4 linked regions of the Homo sapiens genome follow. The protein of the gene in region 2 purifies or fractionates together with the protein of the main gene of each other region. This does not show direct contact. Each region holds a gene or a part of one and is shown on either strand. Other genes may lie near its edges.

Evidence for each region.
Region 1: the proteins of GOLGA3 (region 2) and PPP6R3 fractionate together in Homo sapiens (co-fractionation; one large-scale study listed by BioGRID). This does not show direct contact.
Region 3: the proteins of GOLGA3 (region 2) and GOLGA4 fractionate together in Homo sapiens (co-fractionation; one large-scale study listed by BioGRID). This does not show direct contact.
Region 4: the proteins of GOLGA3 (region 2) and SMC4 fractionate together in Homo sapiens (co-fractionation; one large-scale study listed by BioGRID). This does not show direct contact.

The regions. Positions count from the first base shown.
Region 1 is NC_000011.10:68,572,252-68,575,751, reverse strand, and holds part of PPP6R3 (serine/threonine-protein phosphatase 6 regulatory subunit 3), read right to left. Parts: intron 1,644-3,500; coding exon 1,528-1,643; intron 1-1,527.
Region 2 is NC_000012.12:132,821,103-132,826,865, forward strand, and holds part of GOLGA3 (golgin subfamily A member 3), read right to left. Parts: intron 5,136-5,763; exon of another isoform or gene 4,579-5,135; intron 4,005-4,578; exon of another isoform or gene 3,817-4,004; intron 1,210-3,816; 5' UTR 1,027-1,209; coding exon 894-1,026; intron 1-893. UniProt on the Homo sapiens protein: Golgi auto-antigen; probably involved in maintaining Golgi structure.
Region 3 is NC_000003.12:37,295,271-37,298,770, reverse strand, and holds part of GOLGA4 (golgin subfamily A member 4), read right to left. Parts: intron 2,685-3,500; coding exon 2,552-2,684; intron 1-2,551. UniProt on the Homo sapiens protein: Involved in vesicular trafficking at the Golgi apparatus level. May play a role in delivery of transport vesicles containing GPI-linked proteins from the trans-Golgi network through its interaction with MACF1. Involved in endosome-to-Golgi trafficking.
Region 4 is NC_000003.12:160,433,052-160,435,453, reverse strand, and holds the end of SMC4 (structural maintenance of chromosomes protein 4), read right to left. Parts: coding exon 2,245-2,402; intron 1,798-2,244; coding exon 1,645-1,797; 3' UTR 501-1,644; downstream 1-500. UniProt on the Homo sapiens protein: Central component of the condensin complex, a complex required for conversion of interphase chromatin into mitotic-like condense chromosomes.

The DNA.
Region 1 (3,500 bases), on a different chromosome or scaffold from region 2:
GACTTTCAGGAACCAGAATCCCCCTACCCAATGGTATAGGCTTGATGAGGCCAAGAGCCCTAAGGTAGCTTGTGAACTTAACAAGTTTCTGAAAATGCTCTGGTAGAAGCTTAACCTGGAAAGTGTGTTTCCAACAAGCTTTTCTGAGAAAGGTGGTAGGTGTTTAACGTGTCGGGGGTAGGGGGATCTTTTTCCATGGTCAAGTTAAGTCTAGAAAATGCTGCAAATGACAGCTCCTGCACACTTTCTTGAAATGCTCTCATTGGCAGCTGGCCAATGAATGTTCCACAGAACCTAGTATGGCTTTTCAAATTGCTCTAAGATCATGTTTCCTAAATATTTGTGTCATGGGCCAACGTGGATACACAGGTAATAGTGAAATTCTACCTTCTAGAGAAATGTTAAAGAAAAGGATAAACAACTGCTTTTCTGAGAAAATCAAACCATGACGTAATTTTAGAGGCCTAACTAGTCATCTGATAATTCTGGTTTAAAACAGCCATGCATGTGTGCACACTCACAGAAGTGTACACATGTACCACCTGGCAAGCAGCTTCCATAAAGGAAAGTCTGATCTAAAAACTCAGTCATATCACATGGCCATTTCTTCTTAGTTAGGACATAAAGATAAACTGTGTGGTGAAATGGCCCAAGGAAGAGGCTTATACCTCTTATGCCTCTCTCAAGAAGCAAAATTAGAAGTGGGCACACACCACTTTTTCCATCCCTGGTGACAACTGTGGTTTTAGTGCACATTCAACAGGGAATAGCCTCTTGAACAAACAAACATTCTTAAGAAAAAATGGAAGACCCACTGGGAAATGATTTTAACTGAACAAATTCTGTACCATGGATGTTAAAGACTGTTCACATTCAGAATAGGTCTCAGGATTGGTAATCCTGTTGGTACAAAAACCCAGAGTACACAGTTCTCTCATTTTAGAAGAAGGCTCATGGCTTGGGGCCAGTGTAAAAAAGCATCCATATAGTTTCTTCCAAATAAGCTTGGGCTGATTAAACTGAAATGCTATACAGAAAGAGTCCTTTAGAAGCCAATACCCCTCATTTTAGTGACAGCGACATCAAAGAAATGCTGATAAATGCCCTAATATTCCAGTTAAAGAAACTTAATTCAGAGGCTATATAGAGGCCTTCAGAAAATAAAAGGCAAAATTATAGCTGAAGTGGCTCAACTGCTAGCATATGAGTACTTCACACTCACAATACTCAAAAGCATGATTCACCAAGCAATGCTCTTTAAGAATGACAATAGGTGACTCTTATATGCTGAATCCAGCCAAGCCTGCCAATGCTTATGGAATGGTCTGTAACTACATGAACATAAATACAACCAAAAAACAACACTGTTCAAACACATTCTCAAGAACCTCATTCAAATACATAATTTGCCAAATATAAAGAAGTCCCACAAATCACTATTAAAAATGCTACATGCATTTCTACTTGACCCTTAAATCCTTCCTGCAACCCAACAAAAATGTAATTCAAATTTCACAAATAACTTACCTTTGATAAGCTGCTGCACTAATGCACTGTTGGGGCCCTTGTCAGTGCTGTGCACGATACAGTTAGCTATCCTCGTTAGGTGTCCCATGTAACCATGCCGTCTTCCTCCCTCAGCCCTGACAAGAGGTAAAGGACAAATACTCAGATTCCTGATAGGATGAAGTGATGAAACACTCGGTAAATACTGCGGACTTTTAAACAATCATTTTAAACCCTGAAGGCACTGAAGAAAATGACGATGGACAGAAAAGAAAAGAAAAACAAAGGAATGGAAGGTGCCAGAATATGACCATGCAGCATGGTCAGGGAGGGGTGTGAAATTGTAAAAGATTATATGGCAGCCTCAGTCAACAGGCCACAGTTTATTCGAATCTCAAAAATCATCACTCACTGTCAATAACACATTATTTTTTAAAAGATCAAATAAACCTTCTCTGATGCCTAATGTTATTGTGATTTTATTTTACATCTTTTTAATGAAACTTTTTCAAACCTTAATCAGATTATAAGGAACTGAGGTAAGAATTCTGCTGGTTCATTTTCTTAAAAGATAGCAAATTTTTATTATATCAATGAATAGAAATAATTATCTACCAATGACATGTCTCAAGTTAAGATATTAGCTGATGTGAGACTTGGCCAAGATAGGAGACAGTCAACTAGTACTTGACCATACACCATTCTGAACACATGCAAACAAACAGTCTTTGTCCTTTTCCCATTTAAGGTCTCATCTTCCCAACCATGATCAATCTTTACACTTAATTCGTATCAGGCCAGGCACAGTGGCTCACGCCTGTAATCCCAACACTTTGGGAGGCCAACACAGGTGGATCACTTGAGGTCAGGAGTTTGAGACCATCCTGGGCAACATGGCAAAACCCCATCTCTACTAAAAATACAAAAATTAGCCAGGCGTGGTGGTGCACACTTGAAATCCTAGCTACTCAGGAGGCTGAGGCAGGAAAATTTCTTGAACCCGGTAGGCAGAGACTGCAGTGAGCCAGGATTGTGCTACTGCACTCCAACCTGGGTGACAAAATAAGACTCCGTCTCAAAAAAAAAAAAATTATATATATATATATATATATATATATATATATATATATAAAATAAGTAAACTCATATTAATCTGATTTCTCTACCTATTTACAAAGTGCCAAGATTTTAAGCTCTATCAAACGAAAGATTTTTGACTGCAGATAGCAGGGAACAAACACTGCAGAGATTTTTGCTTAGAGAGAGAAAAGCCTTTCAGGAGCAATAAGAAAAAAAAAACATCCTATGCTTGAAGGCTTGCTTGGAAAATAAAGTATCTGCTAGAGAATCTTAGAGGGCTTGGGGGTGCCTAAGGGTAAGAAGTACAGGGTTGATTATTTAGGTAGAGACAAGGTCTTGCTTGTCATCCAGGCTGGAGTGCAGTGGTGCAATCACAGCTCATTGCAGCTTCAAACTCCTGGGCTCAGGCAATTCTCTCACTTCGGCCTCTTGAGTAGCTGGGACTATAGGCAAGTACCACCACATCCGGCTAATTTTTTGTAGAGCCAGGATCTCCCTATGTTGTCCAGACTGGTCTCGAACCCCTGGCCTCAACCAATCCTCCCATCTCAGCCTCCCAAAGCAGTGGGATTACAGGCATCTCCCACCGTGCCTGGCCAGAGTCAATCTTCACTGAGTTGCTCAGAGTCTCTTTTAGTTCTTCAGTAAGATCCAGAGAGCCAGGTGTTACCTACAGGCAACTGAGTCACTCTTCTGCACACCCTCAAGTACACAAGTGAAAGAAAACAAAGGCCCATCTCTAAGGTGACCCACAGCTTCAAACTGCTTCAGGCTGTTGTGCAAGGAAACAAGGAAAGTTCTTTCGGGATCCCCCTAGACAGAGGGAATGGTATTCACCAGGCCTCCAGAAAACGGGACTCACCAGGAGAGCAGGGCACAAAGGATATCTGAGCCCTGGCCAGATGAGGAGGCAG
Region 2 (5,763 bases):
AAAAAAAAAAAAAAAAAAAAATGGCTGGGCGCAGTGGCTCACGCCTGTAATCTCAGCACTTTGGGATGCCAAGGTGGGCGGATCACCTGAGGTTGGGAGTTCGTGGCCAGCCTGACCAACATGGAGAAACCTCATCTCTACTAAAAATACAAAAAATAGCTGGGCGTGGTAGCGCATGCCTGTAATCCCAGCTACTCGGGAGGCTGAGGCAGAAGAATTGCTTGAACCCGGGAAGTGGAGGTTGCAGTGAAACGAGATCTCGCCATTGCACTCCAGCCCGGGCACCCAGAGCAAAACTCCACGTCGAAAAAAAAAAAAGGTAGAATTTTAGGCAGGGAACATGATAAAGACCCATAGATCCCTTCAGGGAAACACTGCTGCTGCCCCACACGTTTAATGGAGTTCTGTTTAGCAGGAATGTGCCTGATCTAAAGGTGGCATCATTCAGTTACTAAAACATACTTTGGGCCGGGCACAGTGGCTCACACCTGTAATCCCAGCACTTTGAGGCTGAGGCTGAGGCGGGCGGATCACGAAGTCAGGAGATCGAGACCATCTTGGCTAACACGGTGAAACCCCGTCTCTACTAAAAATACAAAAAATTAGCCGGGCGCGGTGGCGGGCGCCTGTAATCCCAGCTACTCAGGAGGCTGGGGCAAGAGAATGGCATGAACCCGGGAGGCGGAGCTTGCAGCGAGCCGAGATCACGCCACTGCAGTCCAGCCTGGGCGAAAGAGCGAGACTCCGTCTCAAAAAAAAAAAAAAAAAAAAACAACTTTGAATTAAGTGAAAAGCTCACAGTGGTCTCAACGCCACATCCTCCCTCAACACCACGTCCTCCCTCAACACCAGGTCCTCCTGTGACCAGCACACAGAGGAACCTCACGACTTACACTGGACTTTGTCCTGCTGGTCAGGTGGCACCAGTGGGCCCGGGGGCTTCAGTGGGGCCTCGGGGAGAGACGAGGGGCCACTGTGGGATCTGTCCTCCTGGAGGCCATCTTGCTCGGCCGACGCGCCGTCCATGGTCAGGACGACACCAGCTGAGCTGACGCTGAGGGGCTACAAGTGAACCTTGGACAAGCTTGGCTTCTGCCATCAGCAACAGCCAAGAGCTCCTGGGAGGGGCCCTACTGTGTCTCCCATTTTCAGGAGAAGATCTGATGACTCACAAATGACTTGATGTCAAACCAGCTAATATCATGATACCTGACAGGAGAGAGAGACAAAATGTATTATGAAACTTGTCAGATTTCAAGTATCAATTACAAAATTAGCATTTGGTTCCCAATTTGCATACGTACAAGAAACAAATACAAACTTTTTCATTCAGCAAATAATCCTGGAGCACCCACAACATCCTAGGTTTTGAGGCTAAGATGCTGACCCAGCCACACTGGGCCCTTTCCTGAAGGAGCTTAATGTCTGTATCGGTGCCAACTAAAGAACATTCTGCTGGGACAGCGCAGCTCTGAATCTGTGGAGTAGGTGTCACACAGGGCAACTGAGCTTTAAATTTTATTTAAAATTAATTTGGGCCAGGCGCGGTGGCTCACCCCTGTAATCCCAGCACTTTGGGAGGCCGAGGCAGGCAGATCACCTGAGGTCAGGAGTTCAAGACCAGCCTGGCCAACATGGTGAAACCCCCACCTCTACTAAAAATACAAAAAATAGCCGGGTGTGGTGGTGAACACCTGTAATCCCAGCTACTCGGGAGGCTGAGGCAGGAGAGTCACTTGAAACCGGGAGGCGGAGGTTGCAGTGAGCTGAGATCGCACCACTGCACTGCAGCCTGGGTGACAGAGGGAGACCCCATCTCAAAAACAATTTAAAAATTACAATACCAGACTCACAGGCCCCCCTCTCAGCTAGTGAGTGACTCTGCCCAAGGCCACGGCTCCTGCCGGCAGCCCCACCCCTTCAGGTTGGACAACTCAGATCCAGAGAAACAAAACTTTAAAAAGCAGGTGCCATGGGATGTGGTAACTCTATACAGGGTGTACAAGGACACCAGAAAGGCAGCTGCCTTGGAGTGGGGGCACAGAAAGGGCATCTCACGGCAGGGCCCGTTCCCGTCTTTACCTCTAGCTGGGTTAGCTCTCTCAGCCTGCCCTGCCGGGCTACATTCAGGGGAGCAAAACTTTGCCCAACATTTGGCAAGTGATTATCCACCCTGAAATGTGCTGGTGATATTATTAACTCATTTCCTTATCAACAGGTAAGACACTAGCATGAGCTTCCATTCATTCTGCAGAAATGTTGGCATTTATTCCTTTAAAATCAGTTTCATATTAACCTACATTATGTTCTGTGTTTAACATTTTTCATGAGAAACATTACACAACCTTCGCCTCTAGCTTACAAATCCCACACAGAAGGTATAGACAAGAAGCCCACATGGGGCCGGGTGCGGTGGCTCATGCTTGTAATCCCAGCACTTTGGGAGGCCAAGGCGGGCGGATCACCTGCGGTCAGGAGTTTGAGACCAGCCTGGCCAACATGGTGAAACCCCATCTCTACTAAAAATACAAAAAACTAGCCAGGCGTGGTGGCAGGCGCCTGTAATCCCAGCTACTTGGGAGCCTGAGGCAGGAGAATCACTTGAACCTGGGAGGCGGAGGTTGCACTGAACCAAGACCACGCCATTGCACTCCAGCCTGGGCAACAAGAGTGGAAACTCCGTCTAAAAAAAAAAAAGGGCTGCGTGTGATGGCTCATGCCTGTAATCCCATAACTTTGGGGGGTCAAGGTGGGTGGATCACTTGAGGTCAGAATTTCAAGACCAGCCTGGCCAACAAGGTGAAACCTCGTCTCTACTAAAAATACAAAAATTAGCCAGGCATGGCAGCGCGTGCCTGTAATCCCAGCTACTCAGGAGGCTAAGGCAGGAACATCGCTTGAACCTGGGAGACAGAGGTTGCGTGAGCCAAAATTGTGCCACTGCACTCCAGCCTGGGAGACAAGCACAAAACTCCATCTCAAAAAACAAAAAACAACAAAAAAAAGAGAAGCCCACGTGGCTGGTCCTCGAGAGCATGTGTGTCACTGACCCCGCAGCAGGACGTGCCTGTCTTTCTAGGGGTTTTTACTCTACCTGCCATCTAGACTGGTCACCCGTAAAAGAGGAAACCTATGGGTGGTGGGTGTAACCCAGTCCACTGACACAGTCAATGACTCACTGAAGGGCGTGCAGACCTGTGAGTATCTGCTCATAACTATAATAATCCACCATTCCTCTCTGCCACCTTGCATCCTACAGGCCAGAGACAGTTATGAGTTCATAACAGTGTTGTTCAGAATATTAAAAGGTTACGTATGCTATTAGTGTAAAACTAGCATTAAGGGTTTGTAACCAGAAAGCACTGTGAATAGAAATGTGTCCTAACATTAGTAACTATAAATCTCGCATAGCTAATCAAGAAACTACTGTAAACAAAGGATCCTAGATGTCTTGACTCAGGGTGCCTGGCACATAAAAATATTTAAAGATTAAAGCAATGTCTGAAGCACAGAAGTGAAGGAAGTTACCAAGGCTGGTCAAAAGCTAATCCTGTGTGCAACGAATTCTCAATCTCATGTTTGCGTCTATGATCATCTAGTAACATCTCTCATCCCTGGATTTTCCGGGTGGGTGGGTGATAAATGGGCCTTAGAGCCTAGGCAGGGATCTGAACTACACACCTGTCCTTACACACAGCACAGAACCCTCTGAAAATCACTTTCCAGGAAAAACACTGCGATCTCCACCAAGCCTGCCCCTCAGCTACAATCCCAGACACACTCCAAGAGAACTGGGGGTCAGCCGGCCACGCCCACCTGGGAATGGAGAAGACACCCACAAAACAAGGGGAGGAGCATCAGCAAAATGATGGCTGCTTATCACAGGCTTGCCCCTTTGACAGATGAATTACAAACTGGCACGGAGGACTACACGCGGTGGAATGTGGACTCGACTGCGCCACTGAATACTGGTACCCTGTACATCTGGTCCTCTTGAAAATTTCCTAGCAAAAGAAAACTTGCGTTTTGCTTTGTGATGTCTTTGCTTCTGCCTTGCGGGGGTGGGGTGATTATATGGAACCGACCGTGTGTGCCTACGCGTGCAGACCCTCCTGGCCCCTCAGGTAAAGGAACCGACGGTGTGTGCCTGCGCGTGCAGACCCTCCTGGCCCCGCAGGTAAAGTGTCTCGTCTACCCCCTCTGCCATCACTGTACCTCACGTGGCCTCCACCACAGCACGTCATGTCTGCCATTGCGTGTGTGCCCATTACATGGCGAGATCCTTGAAGACAGAGACTCATTCCCCGTCTGCCTCCCACCACCTTGAACACTCCCAACTCCTAAAGTGCCAACACAGGTTTAATTTGCCGAATTAAATCTTCAGTTCTGCTGATTCTGCTGAGTACATTCCTCTGCTACAAAGCTAATGGTTCCAAAACAAAATGATTAAGTATTTGAATCCTGGAGCATCAACACTGCCTTTTAAAATACAGCAAAGTCTAAACTAGTCCAGCTGAAACATCTGTGAGCTTCAGTTCCAATGAGGGAGTCCAGGGAGTTAGAAACTGGAAGAGCACCTTTTTTCAGTGGCCGGGAAGATGGCGGACATTCAGACTGAGCGTGCCTACCAAAAGCAGCCGACCATCTTTCAAAACAAGAAGAGGGTCCTGCTGGGAGAAACTGGCAAGGAGAAGCTCCTGCGGTACTACAAGAACATTGGTCTGGGCTTCAAGACACCCAAAGAGGCTACTGAGGGCACCTACATTGACAAGAAATGCCCCTTCACTGGTGATGTCTCCATTCGAGGGCGGATCCTCTCTGGCGTGGTGACCAAGATGAAGACGCAGAGGACCACTGTCATCCGCCGAGACTACCTGCACTACATCCGCAAGTACAACCACTTCGAGAAGCACCACAAGAACATGTCTGTACACCTGTTCCCCTGCTTCAGGGACGTCCAGATCGGTGACATCGTCACAGTGGGCGAGTGCCGGCCTTGCCGGCCTCTGAGCAAGACAGTGCACCTCAACGTGCTCCAGGTCACCAAGGCTGCCAGCACCAAGAAGCAGTTCCAGAAGTTCTGAGGCTGGACATCAGCCCGCTCCCCACAATGAAATAAAGTTATTTTCTCATTCTCCAAAAAAAAAAAAAAAAAAGAAACTGGAAGAGCAGCATCACGGCCACGGCCCAGACAGGCACCACCACCTGAACAGAAGGAAGGATGGGATGACCAGCAGGACTGGACTCAGCCATTACAGGTGGAACATGCAGAGGAGAACTGCTGCAGAGGAGAACTGCTGCAGAGGCCCACAGTGACGACGCCTGGGCCTTACACTGACCAAGAAGGAACACAGCCAAAGACGCTCAGGTTCCACCGAGAGGGCACGCCAACATGGTGACAGCCAACCGCACCGAGCTGAGTCCAGTGCAATCACAGATTCTGCTCACTTAATTCCCCTGCTGGTGTCCAAGCAGCCCACCTCTCCAGAACAGAGACCCCATGACGGTGACTGTAAGTCACAAAGACGGCCCCTCTTTACAGGCAGCTCCTCCTGAAGCCGGACCAGAGAGAGAATTCACTAACTGCCTGGAGTTTGGTGACAGTGATACTTCTCCCTGTAGGGCAATAAGCTGGCAGTCTCGGTCGATTCCCAGTCTTGCTTGATTTTTAGTTAAAATTTGGAATGACTCAGTCGTCAGGGCCTCATTACCTCAGACTACTGACAAAAAGCGATCTCCGGGCAGCGAGGAGGAGGAGCAACT
Region 3 (3,500 bases), on a different chromosome or scaffold from region 2:
TTATGACTGAGACAGTCAAAGAGATCTAATCTAACCGACTCCATCTTGGTTCTAACCTTTAAGCTGTCATTGTTCGTTCCTGGGTGTAGGCTGAACTAACTTTGGGAGAACTTAGTTTATAGTTTATAGTCTAAAACAAAGACAATAAAAGCCATTTCCCAAACAAACCCCCTTCTTGCCTGGAGACTAGATTGCCTTTGTAGGACTAACAAATTAGCCAAAAGATTAGAAATTATCATTTAGGAGTCATGCAGCTGAAGGCTACAAGATTCTGACCACCACTAAACTGCTCCTAATATCACTGCTTGAGATATTTTGCAGACCCTGCACTTGATGGATCAGCTGGCAACACCCAGATCGATAAATTGGCTCATCTGATCTTGTGGCTCCCACCCAGGAAGTGACTCAGCACAAGAAGACAGCTTTGATTCCCTATGATATCATCTCTGACCTGACCAATCAGCACTCCTGGCTCACTGGCTTCCTCCCACCCACTAAATTGTTCTTAAAAACTCGGATCCGTGAATGCTTGGCGAGACTGATTTGAGTAAAATAAAACTCTGGTCACGTGCACACTCGGCTCTGCGTGAATTACTCTTTCTCTACTGCAATTCCCCTATCTTGATAAATCAGCTCTGTCTAGGCAGTGGGCAAGGTGAACCCTTTGGGCGGTTACAAATATAAGGACACTTCCAGGAACAGTCTGTTACTACACAGGTGTGTATTCCCTCTTTTTTTTTTTGAGACGGAGCCTCGCTTTGCCGCCCAGACTGGAGTGCAGTGGCATGATCTCGGCTCACTGCAACCTCCACCTCCCTGGTTCAAGCAATTCCCCTGCCTCAACCTCCCAAGTAGCTGGGATTACAGGCGCACACCACCACGTCTCGCTAACTTGTTTGTATTTTTAGTAGAGGTGGGGTTTCACCATGTTGGCCAGACTAGTCTCGAACTCCTGACCTCAGGCAATCCGCCTGCTTCAGCCTCCCAAAGTGTTGGGATTACAGGTGAGAGCCACCACGCCCCACCAGGAGTGTATTCTTACACCAATATTCTGCTATACTCTTAGATGAAGAAGGGACAACCCTAGTCAGCTAATAAACTGGCACCCTTCCAAACCTCTACTTAGTATTAGTTGTTTAATCTTTATCTGAAGAAGCTTAGTAGTAATTCACCTCTTTGAGGTTCAACCCCATTCAGAATGGCACAGTAGTTAACTAACATTAACTGAATCCACCCTCCTTAAAATGACAGTTTGATAATCATCTTTTGTTATTCAAAATTATGTGTCTTAGCTCACCTCCCAAAAGGATTAATAAAGTACGGTATTCTTTCCAACCACATTCTAATCTCTTTCTGAGAGGAGTTCTGGTAAGTGCAACTTTCTCCATCTCTTTACATTTATGAGTCTGAAGTTTCCACATGTCTGGGAATTTCGGGACTGGCCCCGCCGCCCCACCACCCCACCATAGTCTGGTTGCTCAGATAGTTAACTGCTCAACTACTTACTCCAAGTTTATCATAAGTCCCTTTGAAAGAAAAAGCTAGGAAATAAAAGACGGGAATTTTATTGCGTATATACCTCAAGCCTCAAAGCAAAGAAGGCTGTAACTGAATTTTAAGACAAAATATAGCTATTTCTTCTTTTTCCAGTTAAAAAGCAATTAATAGGACAAATACAAATATCTATGAATATAGAACTATTTAAGCAATATTTAAAAACTAAAATATCCAAACAATTACAAATAGCCCACTTATTAGCATGTAAGCAGAACTGACCTGTTCATATGAAATCTAGCTACTGCTATTAATAAAACAGTGTAGCATAATAAATGAATTTCAATTACAATGAAAATGTGGTGTTACAGACTATGAAATTTTTGCATATTAAAACAACTTTTTTGGTTGGGCACAGTGACTCACACCTGTAATCCCAATACTTTGGGAGGCTGAGGCAGGTAGATTACTTGAGATTAGGAGTTCGAGACCAGCCTGGCCAACATAGTGAAAGCCCGTCTCTACTGAAAATACAAAAATTAGCCGGGCATGGTGGTGTGTGCCTGTAATCCCAGCTACTCGGGAGGCTGAGGCAGGAGAATCGCTTGAACCCAGGAGATGGAGGTTGCAGTGAGCCGAGATCATGCTACTGCACTCCAGCCTAGGCAATAGAGTGAGACACCATCTCAAACTAACAAGCAAACAAAAAACACTTATTTTCTCCTAAATAACAACAAAGAACCAAAAAAACAAAACAAACCCTTGCATCTTTCTGAAACTATTAGGACCACGGACACTTCTACCTCAGCCCATATCTATCAGCTCACATCCTGGAATCTCTCAAAATCCTCCTCTAGGTTTTCTTGGGGTTTCATTTTTGTTTTTGTTTTTCTTGTGGAGAAGGGTTTTCTCTATGTTGCCCAGGCTGGTCTCAAACTCCTGAACTCAAGCGATCCTCCCACACTGGCCTCCCAAAGTGTTGGGATTAAAGGTGTAAGCCAAGGAGCCTGGCTCTCCTCTAGTTTTTAAATTAACCTTTTGACAAAATGAAGCTTACCTACTGGCTCTCCATCACTTTCTGGATTCTCTTCTTTAGTGAAGACTTCAGCCTGTGGTTCCAGCTGAGGAAGTGGTTTCAGTACATCAACATTCATCGGGCCATTTCGTAATCGTTGTTTCAGTAGAGAAACCTAATATAAATGTGCTTCATTAGAAAAAAGTCAAAAAAAACTATGGGAGTAGTACAATTGTCCCTTGGTATCTGTGGGGGATTGGTTCCAGGATTCCCTGTTAATACCAAAATCCGCAGGAGCTCAAGTCCATTATATAAAATGGTGTAGTATTTGCATATAGCCTACACACATCCTCCAGTATAATTTAAATCATCCCTAGATTACATAAACTACCTAAATAATGAAAATGCTATGCAAGTAGTTGTTGTACTACATATATTTTAGAAAATAATGAGAAGAAAAAAAGTCTACATGTTCACTACACATGGTTTTCACCCCCTAAATATTTCTGATCCAGTTGGTTGAATCCACACATACAAAAACACATCAATGTGGATGGCTTATTGTACTTTATTTAAAACAGAGAGAGGACGGATTAAATGATATTCTTCTTACTAAAGTGGGGGAAAATAATCAAAATAAAAAGTTTACTCCCAATACAGCTGGTTTTTATATTTGCTATTATTATTATGCAGTTAGTCAAAAGATACAATAAATAAAAAAGTATCCTTAACATTAACTGAAGAGCTAGGAGTGGTGGCTCATGCCTATAATCCCAACACTTTGGGAGGCCAAGGCGGAAGGATCGCTTGAGCCCAGGGGTTTGAGACCAGCCTGGGCGACATAGTGAGACCCCATCTCTACAAAAAATTTAAAAATTAGCTGGGCGTGGTGGCATATGCCTGTATTCCCAGCCACTCTGGAGGCAGAGGCTGGAGGATTGCTAGAGCCCAGGAATTTGAGATTGCAGTTAAGCTATGATCACGCCACTGC
Region 4 (2,402 bases), on a different chromosome or scaffold from region 2:
ATTTTCACATGGGTTCTGGGTACTTCTAATTCTTTGAAACTTAGTACTGCAGGCTGGGTGCAGTGGCTCATGCCTATAGTCCAGCACTTTGGGAGGCTGAGGCAGGCAGATCACTTGAGGCCAGGAGTTTGAGACCAGCTTGGCCAACATGGCAAAACCCTGTCTACCAAAAACACAAAAATTAGCTGGGCACTGTGGTGTGCACCTGTAGTCCCAGCTACTCATGTGGCTGAGGCACTTGAATCGCTTGAACCCGTGAGGCAGGGTTGCAGTGAGCCAAGATCTTGCCACAGCACTCCACCCTGGGTGATGCAGTGAGACTTTCAAAAAAAAAAAAAAAATCTGAGCTCTACTGCATTGGTTATTAAAATATAATAAAAGTATTAAATTCTATTTTCGCACCAAATGAAAACACTTGATTATCATTATAGCACTTTAAACTTACTTTTCCCTTATATATTCTTGATTTAGAACAAATTACCGTACTTGAATTTCCGATCTTGCTTTCTTTAAATCTTTATTTAAAAGTCCATGCTAATAATGTGTTTACATTTTTACAGTTACATTATGATAGAAACTGTTGGATTTTTTAAATATCTAAAACAATGGCCCACTGAAGAAAGGAACAATTAACTCTTTAATTAATTCCTTAGGATAAATACCCAGAAATTTAACAGCTAGGGCAGACTTCTAATACAATACCGAAAGTCCTTCCAAAAACCAAGTGGTTGCCAACTTATGTCCCTTAGCATTATAACATTCTTGAGCCAATAGTGTAAAAATACGCTGACAATTTTATAGGCAAACATTACTCAAGGTATCTTACTTTCCACTTATTACTAAAGTAATTAACCCCTAAATAGATGCTCCTCAACAGTGGGACTACATCCTGGTAAACCTATCATAAGTTGAAACTATCAAGTTGAAATGCATTTAGTACCCGGATAAACCTATCATAAAGTTGAAAATTTGTAAATTGAACCAGTGTAAATCAGAGGCCATCTTACTTCATACTCATGAAGCAACTATAGTGGGATATTTTTCAACTTACGAGATAGCCTAGGCTTGTTGAAACACTGTCCTAATTTACTGGCTCTCTGGTAATTAAGTCATAAATGGTCAAACATCAAATTCTAGAAAAGCATATATTTAAATTCTCATCACTATAATTCAGAATGACTGGTTTACAAAAATATGTTCATAGTATTTGGGTAATAACTGTGGTGATTGTCTCAACTGGCAAGCTAAGTGGAATGCCTTAAAGAATCTATCCAAGATTAGTTGGCAGGCATTTCCAGTGTTGGTAAATCAAAGGCCCACGAAGGTATGCTGAGCCTTGATAGCACAACCTTGCTTAGGACTTTGCCTCAACTAACATACTTTTTAGTTTGGCAAGTTACCTGACCCTCCAGGTAACTCATTTTTCTCCATAGTCTGCTACTTACAAGATTGTCATATTTTTGTAATCTAGAAGCAATTATAGAGAATATTTTATTAGACTTTACAAATGACAACTGCATAAAACAGAAACCAGTTTCATGATCTAGTTTAGGGAGTATGTATTTTATACAACTCATAATCCTTTACAAATAGAAAAAAATCAGTAATACACTGAATCAACTTGAAGAATCTTCAGCATAAAGTTCAACAAAGTCCCTTAGATGCAATTTCTTTTGGATTTACAGCAACACTTTTTGTTATGTTGTATGTCTTGTAAATTCCAATAAGTCTATCCGAAATCTCAAACATATTATTTCGAAGAGAAATTATTATGAACTGTGCATTTTTTGTTTGTTCCTAAAGAGAAACAAAGAAAAGTCAAACATTAAGTAATAACAGGTAAATCACACAAACATGTAACCTCAAATATTTTTTGGACAATAAACATTACATTGATAACATGTAAAGGAATGATGGCAGGAATAATTCATAAAACAGTATTTGAGTGTGAAAGGAATTTGGTTATTTTGACTTCTAGTGGAAAAGATCTAGGAAGATGACCTAGGATTCTAGCTGTGATTCTGCTACTAATTTGCATTTTTAATTTATATTTTACTCCTCCAAAATGGAAATATTTGGTTCAAATAAAAAATAATTTGGTCTCCACTGATACCAGAGGAGATGGAGATGGAGTTATTAGACAATAAAGAAAAAGCTCAATTGTAAGAAATAAAGAATTCCATGTGTAATGTTTAGGATACCCCTAAAAGTTTCTGGAATGAAAATCCCAAAATGATTACTTACATATATATAAAATGCAACAATGGACACATTTTTAAAATCAAGGGCTGCATCAATCTCATCCATGAAGTAAAGGGGAGTGGGCTTGTAGTGGTGAAGAGCAAATACTAAAGCCAATGAACTAAGTGTTTTCTCTCCTCCCGAAAGGTTGAAGATCTTTT